2 linked regions of the Homo sapiens genome follow. The protein of the gene in region 1 purifies or fractionates together with the protein of each later gene. This does not show direct contact. Each region holds a gene or a part of one and is shown on either strand. Other genes may lie near its edges. The genes, in order: PINX1 and FAM98A.

Region 1 (7,000 bases):
CACTGAGCATGGCTAAGTGCAGGAAGTAGATCATGGAAACGACAATCGGCCTTTAGCACTGGGTAGTGACCCCTGCAGATCTGAGCAGCCTCAGCATCAAACGGAGAGACCATGTGGTCTGTACACACGATATTCCACTCCTAATCAGACGATTCTGTCGGCAGCTGTGATTGTCAGGGTCACGGGCGGTGTTGGAGGGGTATGCAACTATGATTGGGGTTAGCACAAGGGAGGCCTTGGTGGTAATGAAATAGTTCAGGATCTTCACTGAGATAATAATGGTTACACAATCCACAAATGTGATAAAGGGGCACAGAGCTGTATGAGCAGATGGTACCAATGCCAATTTCCTGGTTTCATCATGCTGTACTGTAGTTACGTAAGATGTAACCACTGGGGAAAACCAGATGAAGGGTACACAGAACCCCTTTACTATCTTTGCAACATCCTGTTCATCTATAAAAAGTTAAAGAAAAAACCCTCATGACTATTAATCAAGGGCTGCAGATGTTTCTTAGATATAAATACATTCAGATCATCCAGTTCAATAGAGAGACGAAAAAATACACAAGCAACACAACATCTATGCTCCAGATGCTCAAGCTCTTTCTTAATTCAGCCTCCAGCCAATAAGGAAGTCAAGTCGTTCTTCAGGCTGGCCTGGACACCTGGTCACATGCTTGTCAACCCCTAACAGCTCACCTCTGACTACAGGTAAGGTAAAGAAGTTTTGAAATTTAAACCATTATTTTCCACAAAATAGCAACAGCCAATCATTTTCCCACAAAGTTACGATACAGCATCAACCACTGGTGTCTCTGGTGAAGCTCAACAGAAGCTGCTAAGGCCTAACTAACCCCCTTCAATGTAGATTTTTTGTTAAATGAGAAAGAGTTCATTAACTTCGGCAGGACTGCTGTATTATCGGAGAAAGGCTGATTTTGGAATTGGACGGACACAGATTTAAAAGCCCACGTGTGCCATTTTGGAGCATTCTAACAATTCTCTCTGTGCCTCAGTTTCCTCACTGCTACAGAGGAGATACTGATATTTACATGACGGGATTGCTGTGAGGATGAAATGAGAAAAATCCAGCACAGGGTTTGGCACACAGGTGCTTAATAAAATTGGAATTCTACGATGGCAGTCAGGAGCTGTAGAAATTAAAATCAGTAGGCTTCCCTTATTGCAAGGGTGATGCTGTTACCCAAGCCAAGAACATGGTTAACGCCAACGTTCTGGAACTCTGGATGCTGAAGACAGATCAGCATCGGCACCTAACTAGAGCACCCACAGAGCTACTGCTACCTTAGTGGCCCGCACTACCACGGTTTCCAGGACTCTGGAGGGAGGTGACCTCCAGCAACACCTTGGCCTCTGCAATGCCAAATATAAATCCAGACCGACGGAGCTATGAGAGTCAAGCGAAGCAACAACATACAACATTCCCGCCAACTGAGGATGGGAGCCGAAAGAGGTTGTATTTTCAAACAAATCTGATCAAAGTCCTCCTGCCTTTGACTATAAGGGCTGTTGTAACTAACAAGGTTAAGGTTTCTTAGCAATAGTCTACTCAAGGAAGGTACCGGTATACCTCAATAAAAGCAAACTTAACATATGAACATCCACAAGGATGTCAAAGATAAATGTAGAGGTCATTTTGCTTTATAGAAAGATACTCTGTTTGTCTTAAATGTGATTACATTTAAATAGATTCTGTTTTCTGCACACATGCAGGCATGTCAAAAGGAAAATACTGCCTAGACGCGACCTCCTCAGTGTGGCACACAGGTCAGCAGCAGTATCACCTGGGGGCTCCTCGGATGGGGATGTACAGGCTCTCAGCCCCCGCCCAGGCTTCCTGAGTTGGAATCTGCAGTTTGACAGGGAAGACCTGTACACACGGCAGGACTTGAGGAGCTCTGTCCTCAGGGTTACTCACGACCCGGAAGCCAGAAGCTCTCAGTACAGCTGCATGGCAGGCTATCCCCGTGTTCTCAACCCTCGCTCCTTACTGAACGTCAGAATAACTGCTGCAACAATTGGGGAGGAATTAAAAAAAAATTTTTTTTAAATTTTTCTCCTTTTGTAATATAGATACCTGGACCCTGACCGAAGATTTAATTTAATCGGTCTTGGGCAGAACCCTGGCATTAGCATTTGTTTAAAGCTCATTAGGCAATGCCAGGACGACCTTGTTGAGAACTATGGCTACAGACGGAGAGCAGGGCCTGGTAGAAGACCACCTCACCAACAGGTAGGACCTAAATTTATCACTGGAAGAAAACACTGAACTGGAAGAGAGAGAGAGATGTGACTAATGGAAATCTCACACAAAACACGATGTTGCATCAAGGTTGATCATCTCTACACACACTGGACCAAAAGAGATTTTCCTGGGGCTAGCATTAGGGAACTGCTTTTGAAGCTCCTCAAACACAGGTGGATGTCTCACTTTAACATGACTTAGCTACCAAAGAGTCAAGTAACACCACACAGTGTTGAAAACCTCAAGGCACCCAACACCCAATAAATTCTCAAACAGAAATCTGCCAGAGGATCAGAAACCTCTGATCTCTTACAACTAAGAGCTTTCTGCACCAAACACATAAATTCTCTTAAAGTTCTACAAAAGCCCACAAGTAACATTTCCCTCCCTGATCTGTTCAACTGTACATTTTCATAGAGGGTGTCCGGGAGGGCAAAGGCTGGGGGTGGTGGGTGAGCAGCAGGCAGAAGAGAGGATCAACGTGCAGGGATGTGGAAACGCCAGTACAGAAGGCACGTGAGCCCCACGGGGCTGGGGAGATGGGGGTTATCTCAAGGTATGGGAGGGACGTGGAGTTGATACAAAGGCTCAGGGTGTGATCGTGGGGTGGGGGCAGCTGTTGGGCAGAGCAAAGGAGATGGAGTTCAAGAGGCGCGGGACTGGAATTCTAGTTCTTCCTGAGGACACGGAGACGACTGAGAGAGTCAAGGAAGAGGGGTTGGAGAGGAGGCTGGGATAAGCCAGAGGCCATGTCCTTGGTGAACAAGGAAGAGTGGCGTAGTCCAGGTCTCACGGTGAGCACTGAGGGCAGAGGTACAACCAGAAGCCAGCCTGTCTGACCATGGCTCTTTCCAGCAGCCCCTTGTGAAGGAGCAGCCGGCACGGCCGGATGTCAGAGCGGCTCCTCCCTAGTGACCACTGCCTATCCCGTGACTCAGCATAGTCCGCGCAGGCACCAAAGCCAGGTATCCTTTCCCAGCCTGCTGCTTCCATCTGCTGAGGGTGCAGGGGCAGACAGGGGCTAAAAGACCCAGGAATTCAGTCCCAATCTGCACAGGGAATCATCTAATGAGACTTCTAACCACTGGTAATTCTGGACTCCCTAAAAATTATTACTATTAAGAAACAAACCACCACCCTAGAAATAAAGATTTCTGTCAGTCTGGAAAAATGCCAGGAATCAATAAACCAAGTCTTCTTTTTTGTTCTATGGTCACCAAGGGCCCTGGCTACAAACCAATAAAAGATCATCAGTACAACATACCAGATTAGCTGAGTAACAGTGGTCACAACCATATATTCCAGATTTTCTCAGACAATGCCAGTTCTAAATACTTTTAGCCTGTTATCTTTAGAAATCCATAATCCTAATATATCTCAAACTATATCCAGGGCTGTCTCTTACACTTCAAAACAGCACAAAAAATTCTTTGCAATATTATACAGCCCAATTTAATAATTAGAATAAATTATGGAGTTCATTCCATTGAGGGTGTAGTTTAGTCACCCCATTCTTTTCTTCTAGTTGTAAGGCAAATAATATTGTATAATAGAGGAAATACCCATCAAACCCCCTTATAGATGGTGCTGATCTAGCGCTGTCTCAAATGCTGTTAGAATGGGACAGGCTGGTTCTAGAGAATGAAGGTGACATGCTTCCTCCCACCTCCATTCCAAGTGGAGTAATGCAGTTTGAGCAGAACAGACAAAATCCCTCCCCTTCTCGGCCATGGAAGAGATATTTTCCCCTCTGATTGTATCGGCAATGGGTGTTCTTCCCCAAGTTTAATCTAGTCCTCACACCAAAACAAAAAGAACAAAAGCCAAACACCAGAAAACACTTATTCTTTTTTTTAAAGATTCCTTATAAAACATTATCTACCCACTAATATTATGAAAAGGATCATATCTAGGCTGTGCATGAAGCCTCCAAAGTGTTTTGGAAAGTTTGTCAGAAAAGTACTAGTCATAGATAGAAACAGTCCTATACACAGGTGAAAATCAGACAGTATTAAAGCGGAACACGGAAACTGTACGTGGCTTTATACCTCGGGAGTCTTCTTACTCTGTCTTTTCCCAAAAATGCAGTCAAGATCTGTTTTGCTCCGAGATGACAGATCCTTCCCTAGAAAAACAATGTGATGCTTTTCAGTAAGACTGTTCTTCCTAAAAGAAAGAGCGCAGACATGAACTATGCAGCACCTCAAAGGAAAATGGCTTTTGGGAAAGAAAGAAACAATTTTGAAACTACTGACTTTCTACCCACTTTTTCATTACAACTCTTTCATTAGTAAACAAAATTAATTAAATTTTAAAACCAAGTAAATGTTTTAGAACCAGAACTCTTGACATTCTCTTAATTGTAGAAACAACCTAGAGCATACTGACTGCAAGGAAAGCTAAATTCTACAGCTCACCCTACTCCCGCTATGCCCTCAAGATGCAATTCCTGGGTCTCTGGGTTCTTCATTTAAAAATAGATCTCATTTGCTTCAGAGACATGAGCTACTTACTTAGAAGATTACGAAATACACATGAAAAAATATCACTAGATACACAGCTCCAGACCCCACATATGCACATGAATGAGAACGTATCATATTTGACACACAGGATCTTAATAATTAACTCAACAAATAAAAATTTTAAAAGAATATATGTAAATCAAAAATACTGTAAAAGGGTGACAGGGTTTCAGATTTTTCTTCTTAAAATGTTCTTTACTGCTCTAGCTATATTGTCTCTAAATAAAAAGCTACATAGGGAGAGTAGGAAATTAAATGGCTCTATGGTTCTTATTTAAAACACTAAACTCTTTAATTTCAAACCCCCAAACCAACTAATTTAAAATTCACTTCTTTGGAATTTCCACTTCTACCCAATAATCCTCTGTGAGCAGTAGGCCAAATCTAGTCCCATTTGTCAACGGCATGGTAAATGCATTTTAAAATGTAACTACTCCATGTAAAGGCTTGAGGCTCTGGGCGAGGGAGGTTCTGGGTCAGACACAGGAATGTGAGTCTCACGCTGGAAGCCGAGTTCCACCGTCACAGACTCACTTGTCTTCTTGGTTTCCTGTAGCACACTGCCTTGGCAAAGTAATGTCATGACCCAGAAGGTTCTAGTTCACTATCACTGGGGCACTTAAATATGATATTGCTCAGTGACTCCGTGAAATTAAAAAAACAAAACACTCTTCAATTTAATGCAAAACCAGGTGCCAAAACCAGTTTCCTAGGCAGCAGTACCAGATGAAGTGGCCCAGGCGGTATGACCTGTTCCTGCCAGGAGGGCAGGCTCCTCTGGGCTCTGGCTGCTGCTCTCCTTCCTACCTGAGCTTGACACTAAGCCCTCCTGCTTTTCATTTATGATTAAATAGGACCTACACAAAAAGACCCAAAAGAAAACCTACTTAAGAATAGACGATGCACACCACAGATACGGCAGAAAATGAACCGGGAAAGTGGGGAAGAAAACTGGTTGTAGCGGGAAGAGGTGGACAAACTCATCGGAGGTGTAGAGATGTCCTCACAGCTTTGCTGCCAGCACAACCCATTTTCCAATGCAAAGCACAGTTTGTACTTCAGAAAAGGCAGCTGTACTTAATTCAAAATGTGTACTGGCCATCTATCCCTAACCTATCCTCTGGAATAGAGACACTCTAGAAAATGCAAATTAAGGTCTCTTCTATAGCAATTTGACTAAAAGGAATGCTGGAGGGATTAAGGAAGAGAGGGTACATGCGAGATCACAGTTCTAAAACATGATGTCAAAATGTGAACACACAGATTCAAAACAGATCTGAAAGTCAAAGGGAAAACTGTCAAGCTGGTAGAGACAGTAAGCTATATCAATGAAGGTGCAAATGTGTCTAAAGTTTTGATGATGGATTCTTGTATCAGAAATTTTTAGCCTTTAGCAAAGTTCACTTAAGTAAATGTAGAAACCAGGATTGTTACAGGCCTTGCTCTGGATTTGATCTGGAAAACAAGAACACAGAGAAGAAAGAAGAGTCAGAGACCAGTGGAAAGGAACATAAAAGGTGGACAAAAAGGTGAAGATGGAAGTGACCTTGAGATAGTTACTAATTAATGGTCCTGATGGAAAGCTTATAAACACCAGGAAATTATGGCCGCTTTTGAATAAATACGACAAATTTAAAAAGCATTTAAAAAGCTTATTTGTTTGAGTTCTGAATTATGGTCAAATCATACAAAATACTGTTGATAAACTTAGAGAAAACGACAATGAAGAAAACTGAATAGGAAACATCTATCTGGATTTGGTTCATCTATTAGTCTTCAATGCGTAACATTTCCAGAACCAGTAAGAAAGGCCTCCAAGAGTCAAACTGAAAGTTCCTGCAAGGATGAGCAGGTACTTTCAAGGAAGAACACTCTATTTAGGTTTGCTTTAGCTGTTTGTCTAATAATCATGATTATCAGTTTCCCAGTCTATCAGAGTAGCTACTGGGAAGGGAGGAACATTACTGCTATAGTCAGACACATTTACAATACCAAGAAATACACATGGGAGGCAACTAAAACTTTCATTGACACGAGAACTTAGGAATCAAGATGATTTGGAAACAGTTTAGCAATAACCCAACAAGCTGTATTAGAACTGAGGCTCAAAAAACCAACTCTATGGAAAAGCAGAGTTGAGCTGCCGAGAGTAAAGAAGTGAAGGGCAAGGAATATGTTTGCTAAAATAAAAAAACACTTAAGGTTT
Region 2 (16,495 bases), on another chromosome or scaffold:
CAATTATTATATATAATTGAAATTGTTAATAGGATTTTCATAACTTGAGTTTTTTCCCCTTCTAATTTATCCTTTCTTACACCACTGCAAAGTTTCTTCTTTTTTTTTCTTTTTTGAGATAAGGTCTCTGAGGCCTAGGCTGGAGTGCAGTGGTGTGATCAGGGCTTACTGTAACCTCAAACCCCTGGGCTTGAAGGATCCTCCTGTTTAAGTCTCCGGAATAGCTGGGCCTACAGGTGTATGCTACCATGCCTGGCTAATATTTAGAAAATTCTTTTGTAGAGACTAGGTCTCAGTATGTTGTCTAGGTTAGTGTCAAACTCCTGGCCTCAAGTTATCTTCCCACCTTGGCGTCTTCAAGTGCTGGGATTACTACAGGCATGAGCCACTGCTCCCAATCTAAAATTTTCTTTCTCAGTGTTCATTAGGTCATTCTCTTATTTGGGAGTCTTTAATGGTTCCCTAATTTCTCCCTCATCCAATCTGATTTTTTTCTGTCTGCTTTTAAAGATTCTTCATAGCTGCTTAGGTTTGTTCTTCCTAGCATATTCAGCTATAATCACCTACATTCCCTCCACAAATATTTCCTGTGTGTGCCAGGCCAGTCTCCTCACTGTCCCATGAATAGCCAGTCTTATTTCCACTCTGTGCCTTCATTTAAGTTATTCCCTGTGACAGATATGTCCTCTACTCTCTTCCCCTCTAGCAAATCCCACCCATCCATCAAAGCCCAGTGGCCTTGCTCCTTGATGAAACCTTCCTTGTACTTGGCTGAAACTTCACCCTCGTACTTGCTGATTTCCTCTCTCTGTGAACCACAAAGTGGTTCAGCATTTAAGTACTGTACTTGGCCGGGCACGGTGGCTCATGCCTGTAATTCCAGCACTTTGGAAGGCCGAGACGAGTGGATGGTTTGAGTTCAGGAGTTCGAGACCAGCCTGAGTAACGTGGCAAAACCCCGTCTCTAAGAAAAATAACAAAAATCAGCCAGTTGTCGTGGCACATGCCTGTAGTCCCAGCTACTAAGGAGGCTGACCTGGAGAATTGCTTGAACCTGGGAGGCAGAGGTTGCAGTGAGCCCAGATCGCGCCACTGCACTTCAGCCTGGGTGACAGAGTGAGATCTTGTCTAAAAACAAACAAACAAAAGGACTGTACTTATCTCCAGTTGTTTAATTTGTGCCTAACATTCTCAATTAGAAAAAATTTGAAGACAGCAAACATGACTTACAGTCTTGTATTCCCACAGCATATAAAAAAAGGTATAGAGTTCACTGGGTGAACCAAAGGAAAAACAAAGCTCTTTCTTCATTATTTTGATTGTTCTCTATTCACTATCACAAAGGGGAAGAAATTAACAAACTCTGAGAGAGTCACTTGATCACCTGAGTCCATTTTCTAATCTGTAATACAGGAAGCCTACATTATGAATATTTTGCAAACTGTGATCTGTGAGCCCTTGAGTTCCACAGAGCTCTTTTAGAGGCAGCTGGGAGGATGAGGAGGAAAGAGCTGGGCTAAAGGTACCTCGTCTCTACTTTGTTAGAATACCTTCTAACCTGTTTTACATGTTAGCTTCTGTATCATGTTTCATTTGAGAAAAAGGGGCTCCAGGTTAAATAGAGGTATCATCTAGTACTGGTGTTTTCAAAGGTTCCTACAGTCTCTCAAACATCTGGTCAAGAGGCAGTATAGCACAGTGTTCAAGCACACTGGCTCAGAACTTGACTACTGTTCTGGGGTTGAAACCAGGCTTCACCCCTACAGGTTGTATGACCTCAGGCAATGTATTTAAATTCTCTGGGCTTTCTTGTTAAAGGTATAACAGTAATAAAACCTGCCTCATAGGGTTGCCCTGAGGTTTAATGAGTTAACACATATAAAGTGTTTAGAACATAGTGAGTACACAATAAATGTAAGCTGTTGCTATCATTACTGTTACACTATACTCTCCTTAATAATTAGAACTGAATGCAACTAACACGTACACATTAAATATACCAGCATGCAAGCCATCATCCTCCACAAACTAACACAGGAACAGAAAAAAAACACCACATGTTCTCACCACTAAGTGGGAGTTAAAAAATGAGAACACATGGACACAGGGAGGGGAACAACACACACCAGGGCCTGTTGCGGGTTAGAGGGTGAGGAGAGGGAACTCAGAGGACAGGTCAATAGGTGTAGCAAACCACCATGGCACACGTATCCCTATGTAACAAACCTGCATGTTCTACACATGTATCCCGGAACATAAAGTTAAAAAAAAAAAAAAAAAAAAAAAAATTATATATATATATATACACACACACACACACACACACACATACATACACACATATATATATACACACATATATATACACATATATATATACACACATATATATACACATATATATATACACACATATATATACACATATATATATACACACACACACACACACACTAGCATGCAAGAAGGTGAGCTCTTCAAAACGTGATTATGTGGAAAAAAAGGAATTATATGTATAGCTCTCCATAAGGGTGGGTTAACAGGTGAGTATTTTCCTTGGTCTCCTATTATAGGTTTACCTACAGCAGGAAGGAACCAGATGGTAGAGTGGTAGGTTCCAAGCTTTTGCCTCTTTTGCAGTGTCGACAAACTAGTGCAACAGTGGAAACAAAATTGGTAAATGCAGAACAGCTCTCAGATCCATAAATTTGATTGTCCTGGATCTCACTGTGATGTATCTAACGATGCATTCTTATGATAAACAAAATGTCTTAACAAAGTGTTCTCTTTCTCCCCAAGCATAACAGAATAATAATGCATTTACTCTACATGCTATAGATGCTTCTAGAATCTGGTAATCCTAAAAGAAAAATATCCCAGTATCTAGTTCTAGCCATCAATCTAGGATCTTACATTTAACATCTTACAAAATATAGGAAGTTCATACATTCTATGCTTGTGGTCTCCATTTCTCTGTATCCCAGTAATAGGGTCTTTTCAGCATCCACGAATTTTTAAGTTACATGACTTTATTCTGGTATTTCAACTTCTGAATCACCTCTAAAAACAACGGACGGAAAAAAAATCTTGGCTTCTTTACAAATTTTTTACATTTACAAAAACTTGCAACTTTCAGCTTTAGTATTGATAATGTTCAGTTGACAATACCTCAATGTTATTTTTATACTTTGTACCTAAAAGTGAATGTTTACTTACTGTTAGTTGCTTGCACGTTTTCCTCTAGTTTACAGAGCACTCTTAATTCAGACACCAGCCAAGCACAGAGTTTGGTAAACTCGGGGGAACTGGCTCCAGCAGAGACTGCCTGAGAGAGCGCTCCATCTTCCAACAATGGGCCCTTGTAACTGGTGAGCAAGAAATTACATTTCAGAAGAAAATACAATCATACCTAATATATTACAGATAAAACATATCTATGTCTTATTTATATAAGCAATAATTTAATAAAGATAAGTTAGTACTTATCTTTATTTTAAATGGACAAATATAAACATAATTTAGAACTATACTGAACCATTACAAAAAGCAGCTAAATGGTAGCTGCATTTCAACCTTTCAAAATGTAGGTGAATATCTAACAGAATTGCATATACTACTAAATTATGTCAACTTCTGTACATTTACTAAAAGCTTCCATTGTAAAAAGATTTATTTTCTTACTGTAATTGAATTGAGTATTAAAAGCAAATTAACAAGTAATAGCTAATTATACTGTAACTTATTTCAGAAATAAAACTTAGGTTATCTTTTCTAAAAATTTTCCAGAAAACAACTAGATTATGTTTTTATTTTGAGATGAGGTCTTGCACTGTCACATAGGCTGAAGTGCAGTGAAGGCACAAGCCACCAAACCTGGCTTTTTTTTTATTTTTTATAAAATAGCCAGGGGTCTTACTATGTTGCCCAGGCTTAGTTAGGTTTTTAATGACTTCCTTTAAAAGTAAAAACTTTCCAGTTAACCATTTATATCATTTTTATAAATTTAATGCCAGTTAAGACTAGTAAGACATTCTAGTACCAAAGAAACGTCAGGTTAGGTTAATAAATATTGGCAGTTAATGAACTGGCGCATCTGAATCCTAATCCTTTGTAAGTGATTCCAATATAATTTTAAAAAATTTAAAAATGTTCAAACATTCATAAAAGATGACAGTCATAATGAACTCCAATCACCAATATTCTAAAATATAAGATTTCTGTCACTCCAAGTAATCTTAAATACATATTATTCAGATTGCTTTACATTCTCTTAAATATTGATAATAATGCTTACTTAAGATGATACAATAAATATGCTTAAGATAATATAATGTTTAGGCCAGGCGTGGTGGCTCACGCCTGTAATCCCAGCACTTTGGGAGGCCGAGGCAGGTGGATCACGAGGTCAGGAGACCAAGACGATCCTGGCTAACACGATGAAACCCCATCTCTAATAAAAATACAAAAAAATTAACCAGGCATGGTGGAGGGCGCCTGTAGTCTCAGCTACTCAGGAGGCTGAGGCAGGAGAATGGCTTGAATCCAGGAGGCAGAGCTTGCAGTTAGCCGAGATCGCACTACTGCACTCCAGCCTGGGCGACAGAGCAAGACTCCGTATCAAAAAAAAAAAAAAAAAAAGATAATATAATGTTGAGAACTACAGGTATGTTAGAGAAATGACAGTTCTCAAACCCTTTAAAATATGATTATAGGTTTATACAGTATATGCAACAAAATGAAAACAAATCATACATAAAAAAATGAGATCACATGTAGTCTGGCATCTAGATTTATAAACTATGTATTATTAGACACTGAAATCAAAAGACTAGGCCTAGAAGTTTCTCCTTGAGTTTCACATTTAGACTTCATTAGTTTATTCAACAAGTAGTTACTGAATTCCTACTGTGTGCCAGGTAAGAGATAAAAGATGACTATTTGCCAGGATCAGTGGCATACACCTGTAGTCCCAGCTACTCCGGAGCCTGAAGTGGGAGGATCGCTTGAGGCTAGGAGTTCGAGACCAGCCTGGTCACCAGAGCAAGACCTCATCTCTTAATAAATAAATAAATAGAAAAGGTAGTCATTTAATTCTAATATTTCTCAGTTAATCCTTTAAAAGTACATTTCAGTTAATTAAGGCTGACTTTTAATATTTGAATGCCACCAAACTAAGTAGTTAAGGTTAAAATTTATAACAGTTTTCAGAAAATCCATGGTTTACATTACACTCTATGTCAAGTAGTTATGTGATTACAATTACTACAGTAACAATTACTTGTACAGTACCCAAAAGAATAAAAAGTTAAAAAAAGGAGGGGGAAAAAAAAAGACAATAATGGGAAGAAACAGCATCCGTGGCCAATTCTTAAGTGACCACTATCCATGCAGAAAGACTACATTTAATAAGGTCTACCCCCTTCCTTTCATTCCACTCATTCCACTACAGTACTATAGTGTCATTTATTCCAGAAAGAAGCTTCTAGGATTTCATTTCCTTTCCCAGTAAAGGGACCCTCCTCAGGGCTCCTCACAGCATATTTTCCCAGTATCCTGTGAACCCCTCTTCCACCTCACCTTGTACTCTAAGGGCCTAACACTGCCACAAAGAAACTGTTCCTAAAAAAGTCCTAATGAATGAATGGTTTCATGTGTGAACAAGCGATTCAGTCTGAGATGTCAACTAAAGAGACTATTTTGCTGAATGACTTTAACATATGCCCTAATGAAAGAAAGAAGCCCCCTAAAGTCTGGAATATTTATAAAAATTCAGAGCAAGTTTCCAAGAAAAGAACAATAGTATTTCACTGTGACAAAGACAGATGATAAGCAAGACTACTTCGTTCCTAAAAATTTCTACTAGGGTAGTAAATTATTCAAATAGGCAGACTTTGGGAATCCTCAAGGTGTTTTTTCCTAAAGAAAGGTTTCTCTCAAAGGTTTCCTTGTCATGGAAAAACCTAAGAGAAAATTTTGATAAAGAACTTGTTACTTAGAAATACAGCTAGCTAAATCTGTACTTTGTTTTGATACCGTACCTGTAGGTAAGTATCTAACCATACAATTTGTTTCTGGAACCACATTTAGCCCAAGAGGGTCCACGTTCTCAAGTTTAATAGAGTACACTGATCTGGGTGACCCAGTGAGATAACAAACCCTATTTCCAGCTTCTAGATACTGATGAATTATGGTTGAATAAATATCAGGAGAAGGAGAGACACAATGCAAAACAAATACGCAGGTTCTTCGTGGGTGAAGACGACCCTGGTCTAATGGGGCTCAACGAGGCAGAGTATCACAGAGTCAAAGCAAACTGCTGGTGGTTCCCAGGGACGTGGTGATAGGTTAGATGCACAAGCGAGCTGGCCAGCGGAACAGATGCAGCGCCCATACAAGTGGCTTAGCGAAGCCTGGGTGCATGCAGAGATGACTGGGCAAAGGAGAAATTTTGAGAGAAGTGGGGTGGGGTAGGAGGAGGGGCTCAAGATGGGAGTAGGAAATTTGGAGAACAAGTAGGAAAGCAGAATCAACTTTGGCAACCTTTAGAGTTGAGGGGTTAAGGGGTAGGGCAGGAGGATGAAGCGAGGAGAGAAGCTCGGGGAGTGGGGGTGGCGAAAATCAGAGCCCAGACAATGACACGCATGACTGACAAACGCTGCGGGTAGCTCGCCTGCAGGGAGCACTGGGCAGGCCTAGGGGTGTTGGGATTGGAGGACCCCGAGCTAGCAGTGCAGACAGTGGACGTGGCATTGGGGGTGCCGGGGCCAAAGGGAAGCGACAGCCAGGAGCCACGGGGTGCGGCGTGGAGAGGCAGGTGTCTCAGACTGGGGCGCAGGAGGTGTTCCCAGGGGGCCGGCAGCGTGGGGCTTGGGAGACCCGTGCCCTGACAATCTTACCCTAGATCTTCCAACGACTCCAAGATGTCAGTCTCCATGAGGTCACACTCCATGCTACTGTGGTATTCAAATTTCCGAGTCGTCAGGCTCCCCTCTTCGCCGGCAACGCGTACACTCGCGCATGCGCGACTTCCCCGGAACTTCCAAATCCACAGCTGGCGCCTCAGCTCCCGCACTGCGCATGTCCGGAGCGTGCGCAAGAAACTTGGTCCCACTGACCGCCCCACCCCTGCCCACTAAAGAATTACAGGGCCCGCAGTTTTGCACATGCGCGTTACTGGATCGTGAAGCTAGCCGCCCAGAGAAGGGTAGGAGGACCGGCTGCGTGGCAGCTGGGCGTGGGGACCACGCGAAGGGGAGCGCTCTCGGCTCTCGTTATTGGGTGTACGCATGTGCGAATGTAGGGGGCGCGGCGGGCCGGGAAGGAGCTTGGAAGAGTCTCGGGACGCGGGTGGAGTCGGCTGTTAAACCGAGTCTCTGCATCCCAGACAGGAGATCGGGTGGCTCTTCGTAGGGTGCCGGCATGTGCTAGCCTTAGCTTGCAGGTCATGTAGAAAGGGAGAATTCTTGCGCTCCCGTCTTCAGGACGCGGGTGCGGGCCAAGTGCAGACGGCAGATAGCGTGCCATTTGATTTCCTCGTGGCTGCAGTAGCTTTATTTCAGGGTTAGGGATGAGCCAACTTTCCGCAGACTATGGATGTTCAGAAAGTTGGGTCGTTTTCCCTCATGCATTCTCTACCTGATGTCTAAAGCCCTTCCCAGACACTAAGCATGTTATTTTAAGGAGAAGGGGAGCTTCACTCCATAGCAAATAGAATAGAATATTTTTAAATCCACGTAGTTTAGACAGTGAATAAACTTTTTGGCTGTACTGTCATTACTTTTGACATTATTTGCCCGGGTGAAACATTGAGTTCACGATGTGGATGTGTTGTGATATCTTGGCAGTTACTGAGGGTGTGTTTAGAAATTACTGAAAAATCAGAAATGTTTTCAAAGTGATGGCATATTTAGAAAACTATATTTAACCATAAGTTGGCGTACTGTTAAATCGTGTAGGCATTTAATTAAAGAGTTTTCATATTGATACCTGTTGATTTTATTCTATAGTTCTCAAGCATTTTTGTGTCTGATGGATAGATGTTCCTATCCTTAGTAGTACCTTTTTCTTTTCTTTCTTTTTTTTTTTTTTTTTTTATGAGACGGAGTCTTGCTCTGTCGCTCAGGCTGGAGTGCAGTGGTGCGATCTCGGCTCACTGCAAGCTCCGCCTCCCGGGTTCACGCCATTATTCTGCCTCAGCCTCCCAAGTAGCTGGGACCACAGGCGTTCACCACCACACCCAGCTAATTTTTTGTATTTTTAGTAGAGACGGGGTTTCACCATGTTAGCCAGGATGGTCTCGATCTCCTGACCTTGTGGTCCGCCCACCTTGGCCTCCCAAAGTGCTGGGATTACAGGCGTGAGCCACCGCGCCCGGCCAGTAGTACCTTTTTCAGTTTCCTTATTTTGCATCATCTGAAGTGGGGGTAGGTTTTCTGCACTTACCATGGGCACTTGATATGGCCCATTATGATGCAGTCACCATAAGGCTGTGTGAATATTAGTCACATTCTACAGATGAGGACACTAAGGCTGAGTGGCTTAATAATCTTCAGCGATCTTAATGCCTGTAAGTATGAAACTAGATTTTGAGATTGAGGTATATCTAAATCCATATTCCTTCTTTTTTGACTAGTCAAATAAGGATTTATACGCAGGATGTGAAAAGAGGAAAATTTAGCTAGTTGAATTTGTTTAAACTTGTATATATTGTACATAATTACCTTATAATAATTGAATAATTATTTTCCTCATAGGGTTGTTGAAGGTGCTAAACAAAAAGTCATGCCTAATACAAAAATCAATTTTGAAAGAAAAAGGGTTTCATTCTTGACTCACTTTTGATGTAAGCTGTGTTCAATATTGAACTAATATTGAATATAATATTGTGTTCAATATTAGTGAATGAACGAGTGATGACTTCCCTAAAAGTATTAGTATTCCCTTTCTTTCTTTAAAAAAAATCCAGCTTTTGCAGGAATAGTATTCTCTTTCTAATTCACATCGTTAGCTTAAATGAAGGATTGCTGATATGAAATTTTTATATATTATGGTTTAAAGGAATTCTACAATGGCTTTCTCTGCAATTAAAAAAAGCTTTTAAATACTACTTAAACAAAATTGTGTTCCCTACCAGGCAGGCTCAGAAAGAAAGAAAAAAAATTGTCATCATTTTAATGGGATCTACGAGGAATCTTTTGCATTTTATTTAGAAATTATTTATGTTTATAATGGAACCTGATATCTGAAGACCTCTTTGAAACTGAGTTTACTAGAATGAAAGGAACAATGATTTGGAAGTGAGGAAGCTCTGGTTTTTGCATCAGATCAGTATAAGAAAGAATTTTTCTAACACTCTAAGAGTAGTCTTAAAGTGACTTAGGTATCGTTGAGAGATGATGAGCTTCCTGTCTAGAAGGTGTTCACCTAGAGGCTGAATAATTACTTAAGGGTACTCTTGTGAGAAGGCACACCCACAAGTGCCAGCACATGCCCTTTTACTGATGACTTTGATTCTAGATTCTTTCTCAAAAAAGAATATAAAATACCAACTTAAAACCCTTCTAGGGTCTGGCGCGGTAGTTCAGACCTGCAATCCCAGCACTTTGGGAGGCTGAGGCAGGACGATTACTTGAAGCCAGGGGTTCAAGGCCAGCTTGAGCAACATAGCAAGACTCTGTCTCTGTTAAAAAAAAAAAAATTAATTAAAAATGACTTCCAGGTGGGACCCAAGTGAGGCAGAGGGGCAGGGGCTGGCAGACCAGCGGTAAGCATGGCATATCAGGGCCTCACCATACGTCTCATTGCAATGAGCGTGTTTTAGGGCTTCACTGGTTTCTTCATGCCTTGGTTCATCCCTAAGGGTCCTAAGTAGGGAGTTATCATTACCATGTAGGTGACCTGTTCAGTTTGTTGCTGTCTCTTTTGGCTGATTGCAATCCTGGCCAACTCAACCCTCTCTTCAGACTGCAGTTGAAACATGAAATCATCTGGTATCCGAAGTGTCATTGGCCTTGAGGAAGACAGGCTTTACAGTGCTCAGTCTTAGCAGTCATGAGAAAAGAATTCCTTCTAGATGCAAAATCCAAACCACACCACTTTTCTTGACTTGCTTATTTTGGGCATCAGCTGCCTTAAACATTCACACCACATTTGAATGTCTAACACAATGCAGCATTTTTTTCTTCAACTTTTTTATGCTTTAATGAATTATGTGCCTACTTAACCTAAACTGTGCCAACTCCTCAAAATGATAATGCACTCTTTTGAGAGAGAAGATGCTTTTCTTCTGAGAAATGTGTTATTATGTCCTTGGAATTTGTGGATTTGTAGTGGCTCCTGCCTTCTCATAACATGGGAATCAGTGAACTATTTAGAACGTACTACTGCCTGACAAGACTCCAGTGGGGCAGTCAGTAGGAGAGGACGTTCAGAGGAAAGAGCTCTCCCAACAGAATTACACCAAATTATGTGTTCTTTTTTTTTTCTTTCTTCCTTTTTAAACAGAGTTTTGCTCTGTCGCTCCCGCTGAAGTGCAGTGGTGATCTCGTAGCCTCAACCTCCTGGGCTCAAGTGATCCTCCTGCCTCAGCCTCCCAAGTAGCTGGGACTGCAGCCGCTGGCCACCATGCCTGGCTAAGTTTTTTTATTTTTTGGTAGAGACGGTTTTGCCATGTTGCCCAGGCTGGTCTCAAAATCTTGGGCTCAAGCAATCCGCCCACCTTGGCCACTGCACCCCGTCATGAGCCACCACATCCGGCCCAAGGTATATTTTCAGCATGAATTTCTCATTTCTGCCATCTTTTGGAATAAATCATTTTTCTGTTTTCTATAGATAAAATAAAATATAAAATAAAGCTATTCTAGTGTCCCATCTTTGAGGGAGTCTGGTTACTGTCCATATTCTTAACTGCTGCTGCTACAGATTACCACAAATTTAGAGGCTTAAAACAAGACAGATTTATTATCTTACAGCTCTGGAGGTCAGACACCTGAAATGGATCTCACCTGGCAAAAATGGGCAGGTTTGCATTTCTTCTGGAATCTCTAGGAGAGAATCTGTTTTCTTCCCTGTTTTGGTTTCTAGAGGCCACCCACCTTCCTTGGCTTATGACTCCCCTCCTTCATCAAGACCAGCAACACCACTCCGACCCCTGCTACATGGTAGTCATGCCCTCTTACCTTCCTGCCTCCCTCTTTTACTTATAAGGACCCCCATCCTTGTGCCAGATAATCCAGAATAATCTCCCAACCTTAAGATCTTCAATTTAACCACACCTGCAAAGTCCCTTTTTCCATAGTCTCATGTTCCAACGATTATGATGCAGATAGTTTTCGGGGGAGGGGGGTCCATACCACACTGCCTTTCCTGGAGAGTAGAAACAATGAATGATCTTAAAGATCAGCCTTTTCTAGCTCTTCTTGAAGAGAATAAAGACAAATTATTTTTTTCACTTGTGAAAGAAATGTAAATGGGAAAATTGAAAACTGATTTCAGTTTCCAGAGGAACATGTTTTATAAGTCATAACCTTAAAAATTATTAGAAGGTTTTTAATTATATAGTAATTAAAAATTTATGCAGCTGACATCTTTAAGAAAGTTACTTCTAGCATCTATAGAAGTAATTTTTTATCATGGAAAAGAGGTAGGTATAAGCTCAAATATAAGATTTGTCATGGATTGGTTTCTAAGAGGTGATTAAATAGGCATCTAAAACAAATAACTTTTCTATCAAAAATAAAAGAACACTGTCTGAAAAATAGCAGCATTTTCCATTTTTAGTGAATTTATCTTTAGAATGACCCTCCAGCAAGGAGAAAATAGAAAGACCATAGATTTACTGGTGTTGCTCAGAAATGCAAGTTTGTATATGTTGCTAAATAAAGTCCTTTTCAGCTTGCACAGTGAAAGCACAACTCTTTTTTTTTTTAAGTTAGCATGTAGAATTAAATCTTGTATGGTCTCAAATACTTTATATTACTAAAGAATGCTGTTTTTTCAAATCATTCCTCTGGCTATGTTAGTATAGTTTCTGAGCCCTGGCAATTTTTAGAGAATATTACAAAGTTTGAGAACAACATCTTGCCTGTGTTTAAACTAAACAAAGGAAGTGCTATGTGTGTGAATGTACGTGTGTATATATATATATATATATATATTCACACACACACATTCACACACACAAATGTGTATATATATACAAAAACACACACAGAGATATATCCAGATCTTTCCAGAATAAAAGCTCCAAATTTGATTTCTGTTGTTCTCCCAACAAAGCTTCAGCCTAGTTGCCATGTTCTGCAATCAGGCACACAGTGAACCAGATAGAAACCCATCTAATTTGGATGCAGTAAGAGCTTATTAGACTGTAGCCTAGAGGTAATAAACTAGCCTTCACACCAGACCAAGCGTTGTATTTTGTTTGGCCTGTTTAATAAGTTAAAGAACTGAGCTTACATTTAAAAGTTTGGAGATTTTATTTTAAAAATCTGAGTGTCTGGCTTTTCTGGGGCGAAAACGTCTGCTGATTTGGCAGCATTGGAGGAACCTCATTGCCCATAAAGGCAATGATTGGCTTGGGTTGAGCAGGTTGCCCCTTCAACATGGGGTATGGATCTACCAGTTCCCTCTGTTTTCTGGACCCTGTAAGTCACACATTATGTCATATGTGTGAACATCCAGGCATTTATTTGCCCTGCATTATGGTTTGGGATTTCCAACCTTGTTTAGTCTTTTACTTGTTAAGCAGGTCTATCACTTTTTCTACCCTGTCTCCCATGGGCCTCTCCTCCTTTCTCTGCCTATTCCAGTCTCATGGAACTCCTCCTGGTCACTTAACATAACTTGCCCTTTCATGCCTCTATACTTTTGTACAGACTTTGCCTGGAATCCTGTTTCCCTCATTCGTCTGCCTGGCAGATTCCTCCTGCTCAGTCTTTGAGACTCAGTTTGGGAGAAGCCTTCTCTAACTGCCTTGGGCACTCATTCTCTCCTCCCAAGCCTTCCTTAGCATTTTGGCACAGGCAGCTTCAGGTGAGCACACGTGTAAACCCTCTGCTCTGTCAGCTACTTAGTTCACATCTTACCCTGTCCTCATGTCACAGGCCGACTAGTTCTTCTTGCCCGCTGCCCTAAAAGAACCAGTGAGAACCGGTATTGCAGCAAAGAAAGAGTTTAGTAATCGTAGGTCTGGCCAAGCAATAACAGGGAGAAATTTCTCAAATCTGTCTCCCTGATAATTCAGAGGCTAAGATTTTAAAGGGTACTTTGACTGACAGGGGGCTGGGGACCTGAAACAATTGACTGGCTGGGGTGAAATCACAACAGTGTCTGTAACTGTCTTCATGCAGCTTAGTCTGTTCTCAGGACCAGGTGGTACTGAAGTGCTGAATCTAAAAAATATCTCAGTGACCCAGTTCTTTAGGGTTCATAATAGTAAGGTTATAGGAGTAGTAGAGGAAGTTATAAATGTTGTGGCCCCAGTTACGTGACTCTGGGTCAGTTAGCAACTTGTAGGAAAACACATTAAGCAATGGCAGGTAATTGTTTATGCCAATTTTTCTTTTTTCTTTTTTCTTTTTTTTTTTAGATGGAGTCTCGCTCTGTCGCCCAGGCTGGAGTGCAGTGGCGCAGTCTCGGCTCACTGCAAGCTCCGCCTCCCGGGTTCACGCCATTCTCCTGCCTCAGCCTCCTGAGTAGCTGGGACTACAGGCGCCCGCCACCACGCCCGGCTAATTTTTTGTATTTTTAGTAGAGACGGAGTTTCATTGTGTTAGCCAGGATGGTCTCAATCTCCTGACCTCGTGATCCACCCGCCTCGGCCTCCCGAAGTGCTGGGATTACAGGCATGAGCCACCGCACCCGGCCTAACTATGCCTATTCTTTAGCAAAGTTCAAGCTCCTACCATAATTTTACCCGTGTCTTAAGAATGTGGCTTCAATCTCTGGATAGTGTGTGTGGGCATGGTAGGATAAGGCAGAGGCAGGGGGGAGTTAGTTTCCCTTGCCTCCAAGTTTAACTATAAACTAAATTCCTCTCATAGTTATCTTGGCCTCTGTGCTAGAATAAATAAAAAAGCAATTTAGCCTGTGAGGTTAGAAGCAAGATGGAGTTAGCCCTGTTAGATTTCGCTCATTATTTATAATTCTGCAAAGGTGGTTTCACTCAGGCCCCATCTCAGCTTCACTGCTCCACAAAAAAGTTGTTCTCTGATAGTACTGGTTAAAATTAATTTTCCTCTCTTCTGCATTTCTGAGGTAGCGGTGCTTAACTTGATTGAGTAGCATAACAACCTGGCAGACTTAAATGCAGATTCCTGGGCCCTGCCTCTGATGAGTCTATGTCAGCATTTCTGATATTATGGCATTCTGACATAGCACAGCAGTTATGGGGTGGGGTTTCTATATTTCTTTTCTTTTTTTTCTTTCTCTCTCTCTTTCTTTTTTTTTTTTTTTTCTGAGACGGGGTCTGGCTCTGTTGCCCAGGCTGGAGTACAGTGGGGCAATCTCAGCTCACTGCAACCTCTGCCTCCCAGGCTCAAGTGATCCCTCCACCTCAGGCCTCCCGAGTAGCTGGGACCACAGGTACACGCCACCATGCCCAGTTAATTTTTTTTTTTTTTTGGTAGAGATGGGGGTCTCACCTTGTGTCCAGGCTGGTCTTGAACTTCTGGGCCCAAGTGATCGGCCCGCCCTAGCCTCCCAAAGTGTTGGGGATTACAGGCGTGAGCCACCGTGCCTGGCTGGAATCTGTATTTCTTAGTACCACTTCAGATAGCTTCATAAGTAGTCTTTCATAATTTATCATTTATTAGTGTTTTATTTTTATGTTGCTTATTTCATGTGTTGTGATCTTTTCTCTCCAGTGGTTGTAAAACTGTAACCACCTAATGGGTTCTCCTTGCCTGCTGCCCAGATAGAGCTGACTTATCAAGGCAGGGACATTGCAATGGAGTTGAATTCATGAGAGCTGGGATTTCAGGGACTAGGGCTTTTCAAAGATAGTCTGGGGGAAGTGGTGGGGGTGGCTGCTGATTGGATGGTGGATGCAATCATAGGGTTGTTGGAAATGATCCTTCTGCATGCTGAAACCCTTCTGGGTGGGGCCACAGGAGCAGTGGGCGGGTCCAGGTTGGAGCCAGAGGCGTAGATGTCAGACATGTAAAAACCCTGAAAAGATATCTCCGAAGGCCACTCTTAGATTCTACAATAGATATGTTATTTGCAGGAGTAATTGGGGAAGTTGTATATCTTGTTACCTCCAGAATAAAGACTGGCAATCATTTATGTCTACACCTTAGCAGAATTCAGGCTCCTCCCCTCCTGCTAGCCTGGTGGCCTCTCATTAGCTTTACAAAGGCACTTGAGTTTTGGGGAAGGGCTATTATCATTTAAACCATAAACTAAATGTCTCCCAAAGCTAGTCTAGTAATAATTAAAGGCAGCTCGATTGCTTGAAGGCTAAAGGCAGGAGGGGAGTTGGCTAGATCAGATCTCCCCCACTGCCATAATTTTCTCACTGATACAATTTTTGCAAAGGCAGTTTCAACCCACCCATGTCCTACATAGTGCCTAATACATTGATGCCTATCCAGCAGCCATAAAAAAAATTGATTAGTTGATTGACAAGAAAATTTTCCTTTTTTCATAACTAGATTTTGCTCTCTTAAAGAATAGTGGTTCTTTGCAGCGAATAAATAAGTATACAATAATGAATTATGCTCTGAGCTCTTGGATCATCCTGGAACTCAGTCAATGCCTATTTAAAACTTGGCTATTCTGGGAGGATGATATATTCTCTGCTGACTTAGATTGTTCTTAGCAACTTTGTATTTTATCCTAGTGCAGAGATTCTTTTTGGTGTCTATGTGGGGGAGGGGGTGCATTAGAATCCTCAATGAGACTTTTCATGCTCTACAGCCCCCCTAGTCCCCATGAGAATCACAGCATTGTGATGAGAGATGCTACTGATTAGGAGTGTACTGGGAACAAAACAGGGTTAAATCAGAATAGCGGCTGTGAATCACTGTCCTAGAGAGAGTTTGCAAATATGACCATTATGATTAGATAAATGAACTAGAGGCTGATTTTGAATGTCCTCAGCAAATCATAATTTCCAACTCTTAGTAACAGTTATATATTTACATTCTTCATTATAACAATAGGATCATTGTTTGTAATCACAATAGAGATAAGAAAATACATTTTAAGCCAAAATGATTTTTTTTCAAATCCTTGGTTAGATTACTTTATGTTTTGGAAAACTTGGGTTAAGTCTCTATAAACCAAAAATAAAATTCTAAGACCTCCCAGCCATCTGAATGAGCTTCCTCCTCGGCCAGGGTGCTCTTAAAATTTAACCTGAGAGACTGGTTCAGGCCATGATGGGAAGTGGGGGTTGGACATGCCTCATTATACCCTCCAGCATTAACATCAACACAGACCTTAAGTCTAATAAGAAGCATTTACAATCTATTCTTTCTGAAGCCTGCTACCT

The links.
Region 2: the proteins of PINX1 (region 1) and FAM98A purify together in Homo sapiens (affinity purification with mass spectrometry; 2 studies listed by BioGRID and IntAct, with this or other methods). This does not show direct contact.

Annotation. Positions count from the first base shown.
Region 1 is NC_000008.11:10,815,876-10,822,875, forward strand, and holds part of PINX1 (PIN2/TERF1-interacting telomerase inhibitor 1), read right to left. Parts: intron 4,395-7,000; coding exon 4,318-4,394; intron 1-4,317. UniProt on the Homo sapiens protein: Microtubule-binding protein essential for faithful chromosome segregation. Mediates TRF1 and TERT accumulation in nucleolus and enhances TRF1 binding to telomeres. Inhibits telomerase activity. May inhibit cell proliferation and act as tumor suppressor.
Region 2 is NC_000002.12:33,592,273-33,608,767, forward strand, and holds the start of FAM98A (protein FAM98A), read right to left. Parts: upstream 7,028-16,495; 5' UTR 6,950-7,027; coding exon 6,897-6,949; intron 3,366-6,896; coding exon 3,217-3,365; intron 1-3,216. UniProt on the Homo sapiens protein: Positively stimulates PRMT1-induced protein arginine methylation. Involved in skeletal homeostasis. Positively regulates lysosome peripheral distribution and ruffled border formation in osteoclasts.